Linked DNA regions of Homo sapiens. The protein of the gene in region 1 purifies or fractionates together with the protein of each later gene. This does not show direct contact. Each region holds a gene or a part of one and is shown in the gene's direction. Other genes may lie near its edges. The genes, in order: OGDHL, CPNE8 and RP2.

Evidence for each region.
Region 2: the proteins of OGDHL (region 1) and CPNE8 purify together in Homo sapiens (affinity purification with mass spectrometry; one large-scale study listed by BioGRID and IntAct). This does not show direct contact.
Region 3: the proteins of OGDHL (region 1) and RP2 purify together in Homo sapiens (affinity purification with mass spectrometry; one large-scale study listed by BioGRID and IntAct). This does not show direct contact.

Annotation. Positions count from the first base shown.
Region 1 is NC_000010.11:49,745,197-49,748,845, reverse strand, and holds part of OGDHL (2-oxoglutarate dehydrogenase-like, mitochondrial), read left to right. Parts: intron 1-1,637; coding exon 1,638-1,817; intron 1,818-1,967; coding exon 1,968-2,096; intron 2,097-2,868; coding exon 2,869-3,048; intron 3,049-3,349; coding exon 3,350-3,502; intron 3,503-3,649.
Region 2 is NC_000012.12:38,902,705-38,906,791, reverse strand, and holds the start of CPNE8 (copine-8), read left to right. Parts: upstream 1-1,200; 5' UTR 1,201-1,257; coding exon 1,258-1,355; intron 1,356-4,087. UniProt on the Homo sapiens protein: Probable calcium-dependent phospholipid-binding protein that may play a role in calcium-mediated intracellular processes.
Region 3 is NC_000023.11:46,854,043-46,857,691, forward strand, and holds part of RP2 (protein XRP2), read left to right. Parts: coding exon 1-99; intron 100-3,649. UniProt on the Homo sapiens protein: Acts as a GTPase-activating protein (GAP) involved in trafficking between the Golgi and the ciliary membrane.

The DNA of each region.
Region 1 (3,649 bases):
CCCTCCTCTGTGTCCCTTTGCCCTCAGGACTATCTCTCCTGCTGTCTCCAGCCTGCTGCCGTGTGTGTGTGTGTGTGTGTGTGTGTGTGTGTGTGTGTGTGTGGACCCATACCTACTGGCTCCTATCCCAGGTCTTTCTGACATCCTGTTCCTTTTGTTCTAGCACCTTCAGCCTTCTAAGCCTCACTTTGCTCTTCCATAAAACAGGGATAAAAGCGCATGCCCGAGAATGGTTGCAATGAGTCAAAGATGACCTGTGTGTATAGTGGAAAACTTGGCCAAAGGATGTTTAAAATGAAATTACTATTTTTTTTCAACTGAAAAAGAAATTTGATCATTGTGAAAACAACAAAACAGAACAAAGCTTATACAATGAGAATATGTTCCTCAGTGAGACTCCATTCTTGTGGCCAATTTTGTTTGTGTGCTTCTGTTGTGTTTAGGTGTGTACTTCTAGAAACATTTCATGCTGATACAAACAAACCTCTTTTTCCAGTGCAACCTTATTTCTAAGAGGCCATGGGCATAGCCGTGACACCGGGTGGCACCTTGCTGTTTTCACTTAACAAGTTGTCATTGTTTCCTGCCTGCACACATGGGCTACCCCAGGCTTCTTACAGCTAAAGCATCCCTTGTGCTGGACATTGGGTTGTTCTCATGAGGGTCCTTGCACATGTGTGAGCGAGTTTATCTGTTAGATGGTGTCCGAGCAGTGCAGCGGCTGGAGCTACGGGGGTGGGACTGAACGACCCTCCCAGGAGCTGGCAGATGTCAGCGAGCCCATCCACAGTGTGTGATGGTGCCAGAGCCCCCACCCCACTTCCTCCTACACGCTCTCGAATCCTTTCATCTTTGCCGATATAATAGGTTCAAAAGAGGATTTTGTTGTAATGCATTTCTTTGTTATGAATTCAGTTGCTTATCTTTTCACATGCTTTTGAGCCATTCATATTTTTCTGTAAATTCCTGCTTGTGGCTTTTGCTCATTTTCCTATGGAGTTTTTGGGCTTTATCTTCCTGATTTGTAAAAGCGTTTTGTACATTGAGGGAATTTGCCCTTTGCCTGCATTTGTTTATGAATATTTTTCTCAGCTTGATTTGTTTCCCCTATCGCTGGGCGTGGGTTTGCTCCCCCATGGCAAATTTGCTAGAATTTAGGTGTCTTTTGTGTTTTCTGGTGTTAGGATATTGTGTAGAATGCTGTAAGTCTTCCTTGCTTCAGGGTCATAAAATGTTGTGTGTTCCTCATTGCTACCATTGGTGTGAGGAGTCAGGGGATTCAGCTTCAGTGTTTGCTGGTGGCCTGGCCGAGGGTCTCTGCGCTGATGCCTAGGCACTGCCCTTCTCTCCCTGCCTTCCCCACCGCTGGATGGCCTTCCCCACTCTTGTGCTCTCCTGCTCCATGGTCAGTGTACAGAGAGGCTCTGAGCCAAGGCCTGGGGTCCCTGCCTTCCTCCCTCAGGCCAGTGAGGAGGGGCAGTGTGATGAGGAGAGAGGGGTCAGAGACAGCTTGGCCCTCTGAGGCAGTGGGATCGGGGGAATGTGCCAGCCTGACTGTGGGCTGCAGTGCCTGCCTGTGTATCTGCCTGTCTGATGTGGGAGGGGAGGATCCATCATGTTCCCATCTCCACCTTCAGGGCTCCGGGGATGTCAAGTACCACCTGGGCATGTACCATGAGAGGATCAACCGCGTCACCAACCGGAACATCACTCTGTCGCTGGTTGCCAACCCCTCCCACCTGGAGGCAGTGGACCCTGTGGTGCAGGGGAAGACAAAGGCAGAGCAGTTCTACCGTGGAGATGCCCAGGGCAAGAAGGTGAGCTCACCTGGGGGAACCCAGAGGACCTGGGCCCTTCAGGGTGGGCCCAGAGGGCTGGGCTGGACCCTGGGTCTCCACAGTACAGGTGCCGGCTGGGCTACATGGGCTGGGGCACGCAGCCCCTCCTGGCTCACACCTGCCCTGCAGGTCATGTCCATCCTGGTTCATGGGGACGCCGCCTTTGCTGGCCAGGGCGTGGTATATGAGACCTTCCACCTGAGCGACCTGCCCTCCTACACGACCAATGGTACCGTGCACGTCGTCGTCAACAACCAGGTGAGCATGTAGGCTCCACGCTGGGCCTCACAGCGTCAGCATCCCTGGAAATCCAGGCAGTAGCTTGCGGGGAAAGTGAGATGCTCCTGGCTCTGAGCCCACTGCTGTGCTGCTTACCAGGCAGGACCCTGCTCTTTCCAGCCTTGGTGTCCTGGTCTGTGAAATTGGAAGACACAATAGGGAGGGATAAGTAGGGCTGGAAGGACCAAAGGAGCACCTGTGTAGCGAGTGCCTCATGGAGGCTGGCCGTGTGCAGCCCCACATGGGCAATCTTAGACACAGGGACCTTGGTGCCCTTTCTCTAAGGCAGCTGAGCTTCTAACAGCTCATATGGAGTCTAGAAAGCCCTGTGTTCACTGCCTTGTTTGCATTAAGTCACGTCATCGTCCTTGAACATCCTGTGAGGTGGGAATTTAAGTGACCCCTTTTTATAGATGAGGAAACAGGCTGTGGGTATGTAAGCACCTTGCCCCAGGTTGCAGTTAGCCGTTGTTAGGACTGGATTTTCCAGGCCTATGTTCCTCACTACCAGTGTGTCAAAGTGACTGGCGAAAAAGAGCAGGCTCCACCCGGCTGGTGCTGCTGCCGTCCCCGTGGGAGCTGTTGCCGTGTCTAATTGTGGGGCTGCTCACCATCACCCTGTTGTGTCCCACATTCCTCCTGGGCACCTCAGTGGACCTTGAGCATCCCCCTGCTCAGTCTCCAAGGCTGGCACCTTCTATCTCACTCTAAGTAAATTGAGAGGCGCAGCAGGTTTCTCCTGCCTCTGCAGATTGGATTCACCACAGACCCCCGAATGGCCCGCTCCTCACCATACCCGACCGACGTGGCCCGGGTGGTCAATGCGCCTATCTTCCATGTGAATGCCGATGACCCAGAGGCTGTGATATATGTGTGCAGTGTGGCAGCCGAATGGAGAAACACTTTCAACAAAGATGTTGTCGTGGACCTGGTGGGTCTGGGGACTGAGGCCAAGGCATGGGTGGGTGGCCCATCCCTGCTGTGCTGAGCCAGCCATGTCATCAGCATCTTCAGCACTCAGGGCTGGGAGTGCTTCTTGGATGAGAGATTTATGCCACCAAGAGCAATCTGTGCAAAGGCCTGGGACGGGACATTCATTCGGTGATAGGTGATAGTGGAGCTCAAAGGGCTCCCAGTGGGTGTGCCCTACCCAGATATTCCCCAATTTTGCAGCAGCTACATTGACCACACAGCGTAGGGAAGGGCCTGAGCCCCTCTGGCTGCTCCTGCAGGTCTGTTACCGCCGGCGTGGCCACAATGAGATGGACGAGCCCATGTTCACCCAGCCGCTCATGTACAAGCAGATCCACAGACAGGTGCCTGTGCTGAAGAAGTACGCAGACAAGCTGATTGCCGAGGGCACAGTCACCCTGCAGGAGTTTGAGGTGGGCAGGCAGGCTGCAGGGGCGCCCAAGACAAACTTTGGGTGGGGACCCTGGAGAGGGGTTGTAGATGTTACCAGCCCAGTGCTGGGCACTAAGGATTTAAAGAAGTAGCCACTATGGTCCTTGTCCCCAAGAGGCCCCAGTTAC
Region 2 (4,087 bases), on another chromosome or scaffold:
CCTGGTGGCGAGCTCCCGGGACCCGCAGGCGCTCGGGTGAGGCAGGAGGGAAGGCGCGGGGAACAAAGGTCCCTGCAGTGGAGGGGCGCCTCGTCTACCTCCGGATGCTTTTGCCACGACTCCGTCTTGGCACCAGTCTTGCTGCCCTGGAATGCAGTTTCCCAAACGCAGCGCTCACTCTGACTCCTCTCTGCTTTTATCCGTCAGGTCTCAGTTCTTGCGGGTGGGAGTCGGCTGAAGGAGCTGCGTTATATGGTTGTGACATCACCCTCCCCGGCCCCCATTTTCAGGTCAGAACTTTCATGCCTTTGGAAACGAGGGACCCAGAAGAGCCCTTACTGTAGGAGGAATGTCGCCGTTAGACCTCTAAGCTCCGAAGAACCAAGGGGAGACAGAATCCAGATTGCTTCCTTAAATCCCAAGTAGTATTGTTTTTTCCACCTTAGAGTCCGCCCCCCCGCCCCCACTTGTCCCATATATTGATCGGCCACTTTGCCACCGTGTTCCAAGGTTGGAGAGCGTCACAATGCCCCACCGTCCCCAACTCTCAAGTGGCCGACAGTGGGCAGTCCAGAAGCTGGGACCAGACTCATCTGCCCGAGGGCACAGTAGGAGGGACGGAGGGATCTCCCAAGAGCTCCGAGGGCGAGGTGAGAACCAATTGTGGGGAGGGGGACCTTATAACGGGGCAGTTAGGAACGGGCAGAGGTGCCCCCACCTCCAGCTTTCAACTCAGGCGAGGAAACTTCGAGACCTTCCCGTCCACACCTGATTGACAGAAGGAAGCTGTCGCGGCCCAGGAGGCGAGTGTGGGTGTGCAGAGGTGGAGACAAAACCTAAAAGCACGCAGAGCCGGCGAGGGCTTGCGGTCCTGGACGGTAGGGGTCTGCGTCTGGTGCCACCTTCTCCATCAGGCTGCTTGCTGGGTCCACCAAGCCTGACCCCTCCAGCCAGGAGGGGATCACGGAGTGTGTCCCCCGCCCGGGCTGCTGCCTGCCGGAAGGGGGCTGGGAAACCGGGATCCCCGCGCGCCACTTGCCTGGCAGCGTCAGTTTCACCCAGGACTGGCTAGCGGTTCCCTCGTGGCTCTGCGCGGAGGTCCGCCTCCTCCCTTCCCTCCCCCATCCCGCGCGCTGCCTCCGCCTCCTTCTTCTGCCTCCACCCTCAACCCCCATCCCCGCCTGACGGGAGCTAGCCCTCAGTCCGCCCGAGCTGTGGTTGTGGGCGCCGGACAAGTCCAAGGCGCCTCCTCCCAATATGGACAGCCGCTACAACAGCACTGCGGGCATCGGGGACTTGAACCAGCTGAGCGCTGCCATCCCGGCCACGCGGGTGGAGGTGTCCGTGTCCTGCAGGTGAGGACGCAGCCCTTCCCCTCTCTCCTGCCCTCTCATCTGTGGGGTTGGTAGCACTTGGAGAGCGCTCGGGGTACCACGAGGCTTTGCGCAGGCAAGAAGTTGCGCCATGAGTGGGAAATATCTCAGTAGTGGGGCTGGAGTTACCCCGGGTCAGGTGACACAGGGGAGCGGGAATTAGAAGCGGTGGGCTCCGGGACTGAGACTTTGTATTTTCTTTCTGGGAAACGCTGTAAAAGTTGGCTGGGCTGTGACTCAGCTGTGGGAACACCGGCCGCCGCCCACTTTACAAGCCGGTTTTCCGCCCCAAACCCGGGCTGGATGGTTGGGTGATGACCGGAATCGAAGGGGACAGCACTGCCAAAAGCTCTTGTGACCGCTGCACGCTTAGGCCCGGGACTTCCTCTGCTAGGCGTGTGCAAACCTGCTGTTGCTAGGGTTGGCTCCAACCCCGGCAGCTTCCTCCCCACCCACTTCCTGGAGCCTTCCAGCTTGCTTCTCCCCGACCCTTCCGGGCTTTTTGCCTTTTGCCTGATAGGTAGAGATTTCGGCCCTCCTTGCAGACGAATCTATGCCTTACCTAAGATCTGGGAAGTCACGACTTTTGTTTTGATTTGTTTTCGGGCCCACATCTGAGTGCTTGTAAAAACTGACTCTCGGCCGGGCGCAGTGGCTCAGTACAGTTTATACGCCTGTATTCCCAGCACTTTGGGAGGCCAAGGCGGGTGGATCACGAGGTCAGGAGTTCGAGACCAGCCTGGCCAATATGGTGAAACTCCGTCTCTACTAAAAATGCAAAAATTAGCCGGACGTGGTGGCACGCGCCTGTAGTCCCAGCTACTCGGGAGACTGAGACAGGAGAATCGCTTGAACCCGGGATGTGGATGTTGCAATGAGCTGAGATCTTGCCATTGCACTCCAGCCTGGGCGACAGCGCAAGACTCCATCTCAAAAAAAAAAAAAAAACAAAAAAAAACTGACTTTCAACCCTGTCCAGAGACTGTAAATTGCAAACTCGTTGTCCTGACCTTTCGGTTAGTTGCCCTGTAAATAAAGCAGCATCACCGCTATATCATAGATGATTTTGAGAAGGAGATGAGCGATGGTGCTAAATTGGTACTGGCCACTAATTTGCGAATTAATATTGACCCTGGAGCCCACTCCCTTGTTTGCATAATTGGGTCTGTCTCACTGGAAAACTGGCTCCTCATTTATCCATTTTTGCCCTAAGATTGTTTTTATGCCCTCACATCCTCCCTTTCCTTTCCTTAGCAAACTTGCCTTGAAGATATCTAACAAATTTGGGTGATCTTGATGTAAATAAGTTTAAAATTCCATCAATCTTGACTTTGCATTTTCACAAACTGAGCCTAAAGCCAAAGGAATTCTTTTCTGGGGGTGAAAATTCGAGCACCAGCAACCGTAGTAGAAGTATTATTTGAGGGTAGGGGACAGCCTTTATCTAGCCCTGAAACTATATCACCTGATTGTTTGCCGCCTCTTAAGACTGATCTGGGACTATGGAAATAATCATGCTGATAATGATAGCTATCATTAAGCTCTTGCCTCATTGCTGTCACTGCTTTAAGTGCTGCCTGAGATTTTTCTGTCAATGGAACAGGTGAAGCTGTTTGGAAAACTCTTTAGAGGATTCCTAGGCCTTTTTCTTTTCTCTGAAGCTTGCTTTCGATGTTAGAGGGAAGTTACTGGTATATACAGATAATGGATAGCCGGAAGTCCTACAATAACAGCATTACTAGAGTTCTTATCCTCTGCTCAACAGTCTGCAAAGTCTGAATGGCATGTGGCCTATACTTGGAATGAATATAAAAGAATATTGTCAATCAAGTCTGAATTTTTCCATGAGCTTTTTAAGGGAAATTATACCTAAACTGGTCATTCTGCCAGTAGGGCCCATGTTTAATGCAGCCCCTTTTTTGATGCATGTTTTCTGTGAGTGTGCTGGGCATACTGAAGTCAATTGGCTTAAGGCAATTTGTTTCAGTTTGCTGCCTCAGAACCTGCAAATCCCTTGTTCCAGCTTTTTTTCATAACATTGCTTTGACATTTTGTTTTTAATTTTTAAGATTTCTAACAGGAAAAAAAAATCCTGAAAGAGAACCTGAATACTTAGTGTCAAGCATCTCTGCCAGGGGCACTAGTGCTTAGTCTATTGTTTGAGTTGCTTCTGACTCAGCTTACTATTTACGATAAGTTTGAGGTAAAAAGCATCTTTTGGGCAAAGAGAAACATAATTAAATACCCAAGTTAGTGCCTTTGGAATAGGTTTGGGAATAGTTCCTGAAAAGGTGGGTTAAATTTATTTTTAATACATTAAAATTCAAAGATAAAAATATTTGAGTATTGTTGGATCTTGTAACCATAGGAGGTGGTTTAGTTTGGGCTTTGGCATCAGAGACCTAAGTACAAATTCTGGCTTTGTGACTTGTTCTTGCTACCTTGGAGTAAGTTCTTATTCAGTCTGTCTAAGCATTCTCATCTCCAAAAATAAGAATAGTTATGGTATTTACCTTATATAGAGTGTTATCAAGGTGATGTGTGAAAGCGCTTACACAATGCATGAAACAAAAACATGTTTTCAAAAATGTTAGCTATTATTATAATACTGGAAATAACATTTGTTGAATAAATGTGTTATATATGATTCAGGTATGGAATTCTGTAAAAGTCCTTCTCTTTTGAACTTCAATAAGTTGGTTAAAGAACACAAG
Region 3 (3,649 bases), on another chromosome or scaffold:
TCCCGGGGTCAGAGACAGAAGAGCAGCGATGAATCATGCTTAGTGGTATTATTTGCTGGTGATTACACTATTGCAAATGCCAGAAAACTAATTGATGAGGTAAGGAGAAAGAGAAGAGAAATAGTCATACACCTAGATTTAAAAATGTACCACTCTGGAGTACTTCCATTCTTTTCAAATTGGCTATTGGAAATACAGGCAACCCTCAAGTTATAGTCCTTTGCCACCACCCCCTCTCCCAACAGACTCATCTGTAAGTAGATTGCTTGGGCCTCAAAATACTTTCTCAAAGAAACTTTTAAAAAATATAATTCAATTCAGTAAGCATTAAGCATTTGTTTGTAAGTAGATTGCTTGGGCCTCAAAATACTTTCCCAAAGAAACTTTAAAAAAATATAATTCAAATCAGTAAGCATTAAGCACCTATTATGTGCTAGTTACTGTTATCATATTTCACTGATGATAGGATGCCTATTTGTTTTCCATGATTTTGCTTATCTGGAATGCATCTTATAATTGATAGCAACTCAGAAATGATGAACTATAGTGTATGCTGGAGATGAAGATACATAGACAAAATTCTCTGCCCTTAAAGAGTTTCCATTATACTAGATGATTTCCAGAGAAGCTCACAAAAGTAGTACTGCTTAGTAAAGCATGACATTTTATAATTATTTAGTGGGGAAATTTCTTTAGAGTTCTAATTGGTTAGGGGGTAAGAAAATGCAATTTTTTTTTTTTGTGACGGGGTCTTGCTCTGTCACCCAGCCGGAGTGCAGTGGTGCGATCTCGGCTCACCGCAACTTCTGCCTCCTGGGTTCAAGCAATTCTCCTGCCTCAGCCTCCCAAGTAGCTGGAACTATAGGTGGGCGCCACCACACCCAGCTAATTTTTTTTGTATTGTTAGTAGAGACGGGGTTTCACCACGTTGGCCAGGATGGTCTCGATCTTTTGACCTCATGATCCACCTGCCTAAGCCTCCCAAAGTGCTGGGATTACAGGCATGAGCCACTGCACCCAGCCAAAAGTACATTTAGGAATACAACTTTTGGACCCTGTTGTGACTGTGAGAGCAACCTCCACATTACGTTCCTTATTTTCCTTTATTGCCATAGAAGGGAGCTTGATGCAGAAGAGTGAGATGGAAGCTAGGTTGGCAAAGCTCATAGGCTCATGAACAGTGGGTCTTGGTGAGCTCATGAATAGAGAAGGCTTTTTGGGGTAGCAGCTTCTGCTTGAAAAATAATTGGAGATACAGAGGTTAGGGGCTCCAGAAGCAGCAGTTCCTTAGTTGGTGGGTGCTCCAGTGGGAAGGCAGCAGTAGGATGTATTGATTATCCATTAATCAGGTTCCTTCAGGAGGAATCTGTTTGAATTTAAAAACCAAACTTAAAGACATAGAGAAGTGAATGGAAAACTCATCAAGTCTCTTTTTATTTTTTTGAGACGGAGTCTCACTTTGTCTCCCAGGCTGGAGTGCAGTGGCGCGATCTCAGCTCACTGCAACCTCTGCCTCCCGGGTTTAAGCGATTCTCCTGCCTCAGCCTCCCGAGTAGCTGGGATTACAGATGCCTGCCACCATGCCCGCTAATTTTTGTATTTTTAGTAGAGACAGGGTTTTGCCATGTTGGTTAGGCTGGTCTCGAACTCCTGACCTCAAGCAGTCCACCCGCCTCGGCCTCCCAAAGTGCTGGGATTATAGGCGAGAGCCACCACGCTCGGCCGGAAAACTCATCAAGTCTCTTTTTGAATGGATTTTTTTTTTTTAAGTTGGAACATATCAAAAGGAATGATTTTAGGAAAATACTAAAAATGAATACCTCTCAATAGCTATATATTCCACAATGTAGAAAACCCATGTAGAAATGTCTGAAATCCACAAAGTATATCTGAGGTATAGTTTTTAAACCAACAGAAGCCAAAGTTTAATTTTAAGACTTTTATATTTTCTCTTTTGCTTATGCCTATGTGATAAAAACATTCCATGAATCTGGTAAGATACAGAAAAATGTGCTTCTGGCTTTTGAGCTATCTGATCACATGTTAATCCAACATCTGAGAGGTAAATGCTTTCATTATGCAGTATGGTGATTTAAAAAAAAACTACAAACAGTTTTCAAAATATGTAATTATTTAGGTTAAACTCCTTTTTCATAGGTAATGAGGAGTGGACATAAAGAATATTTAGCATGTTTAAAGAAAAAGCCATCAAAACAGTGTTTCTTCATGAATCACCAAATGTTCTTAACCTTTTAACCTTTGGTATCTGGTATGTGAAATGGCAGTGTTGTGTGCCCTTGAAAAGAATATGACCAGGAAGAATGATATTCTTTAGATATCCTCTGGAATACAATATAAACAATCCCACAGCGATAATAATAACTAACACTTACATAGTGTTTACTATATGCCAGGCACTATTGTAAGGAATTTAAATGAATTAACTCAATACTCAAAACAACTCTATGAAATAGGTGCTATTATTCCCCATTTTACAGATATGAAAAATAGACCATAAAGAGGGTAAGTACCTTGCAAAAGGTCATTCAGCTGGAAAAAGCAGAGCCATGATTCCAATCCAGGCAGTCTGGCTGTGTAGGCCACACCTTAACCCTTAAACATGATGCTGTTATGCTCCCTCAGTGGTAAAGGAAAGTTGCTGAATGCCTGGTGGAGCAGGAATGTGACTGAAAGCATGTGGACTCTAGGGCCTTCCAGTCTAGGGACTATTTGGCTATAGTTATCCTATCTTATTCTGAAAGTACAGAATTAAGGAATGAAGAGAACAAACAAAAATAAAAAATAAAATACCAAGTACATGTGAAGAGGGTATCAAAACATGCTGAAAGACAAAAGACTTATATATTATATTGAGAGATTACATTTTTTAAAAAATGAGATGAGTTCGCAGGGAAATATGTATAGAAGCTAGTGAATCTTGAGATGAAAAAAATAAAACTTGAGTCTTTCTCATGTCATAACACAAATGTCTTAGGACAGCTTAGACTGAAACTATGATTGCTAACTCTATATTTGTTAAACCCCAGGAGGATTACAGAATTTTGTTTCACATTGTTTTAATGCATTAAATAATGATTTTTTTTTTTTCGCAATAGGAAGTATACAATTTGAGAGAGGTTAGGAAGTCCAAAAAGGCTGGGTAAAGCAAAAAGACATTCCATAGGGAGCCAAGAGAAGTTACTAGACTTTGGTTTTCTCACCTAAAAATCAGATTCCAGCCGGGCGCAGTGGCTCACGCCTGTAATCCCAGCACTTTGGGAGGCCGAGGCGGGTGGATCACGAGGTCAGGAGTTCAAGACCAGCCTGGCCAAGATGGTGAAACCCCGTCTGTACTAAAAATACAAAAATTAGCCAGGCGTGGTGGTGGGTGCTTGTAATCCCAGCTACTCGGGAGGCTGTGGCAGGGAATTGCCTGAACCCACGAGGCGGAGGTTGCAGTGAGCTGAGATCCCACCACTGCACTCCAGCCTGGGCGAGAGGGCAAGACTCCGTCTCAAAAACAAACAAACAATAAAAATTGTTTTTCTTTCCTCGACTTCTCTTACCTACATCACAGATATGTACAGGATAAAATAGAGTAAAATAGTTTGAGAGTACTTCATCATCTGAAATTGAAGTTGGGTAGTTA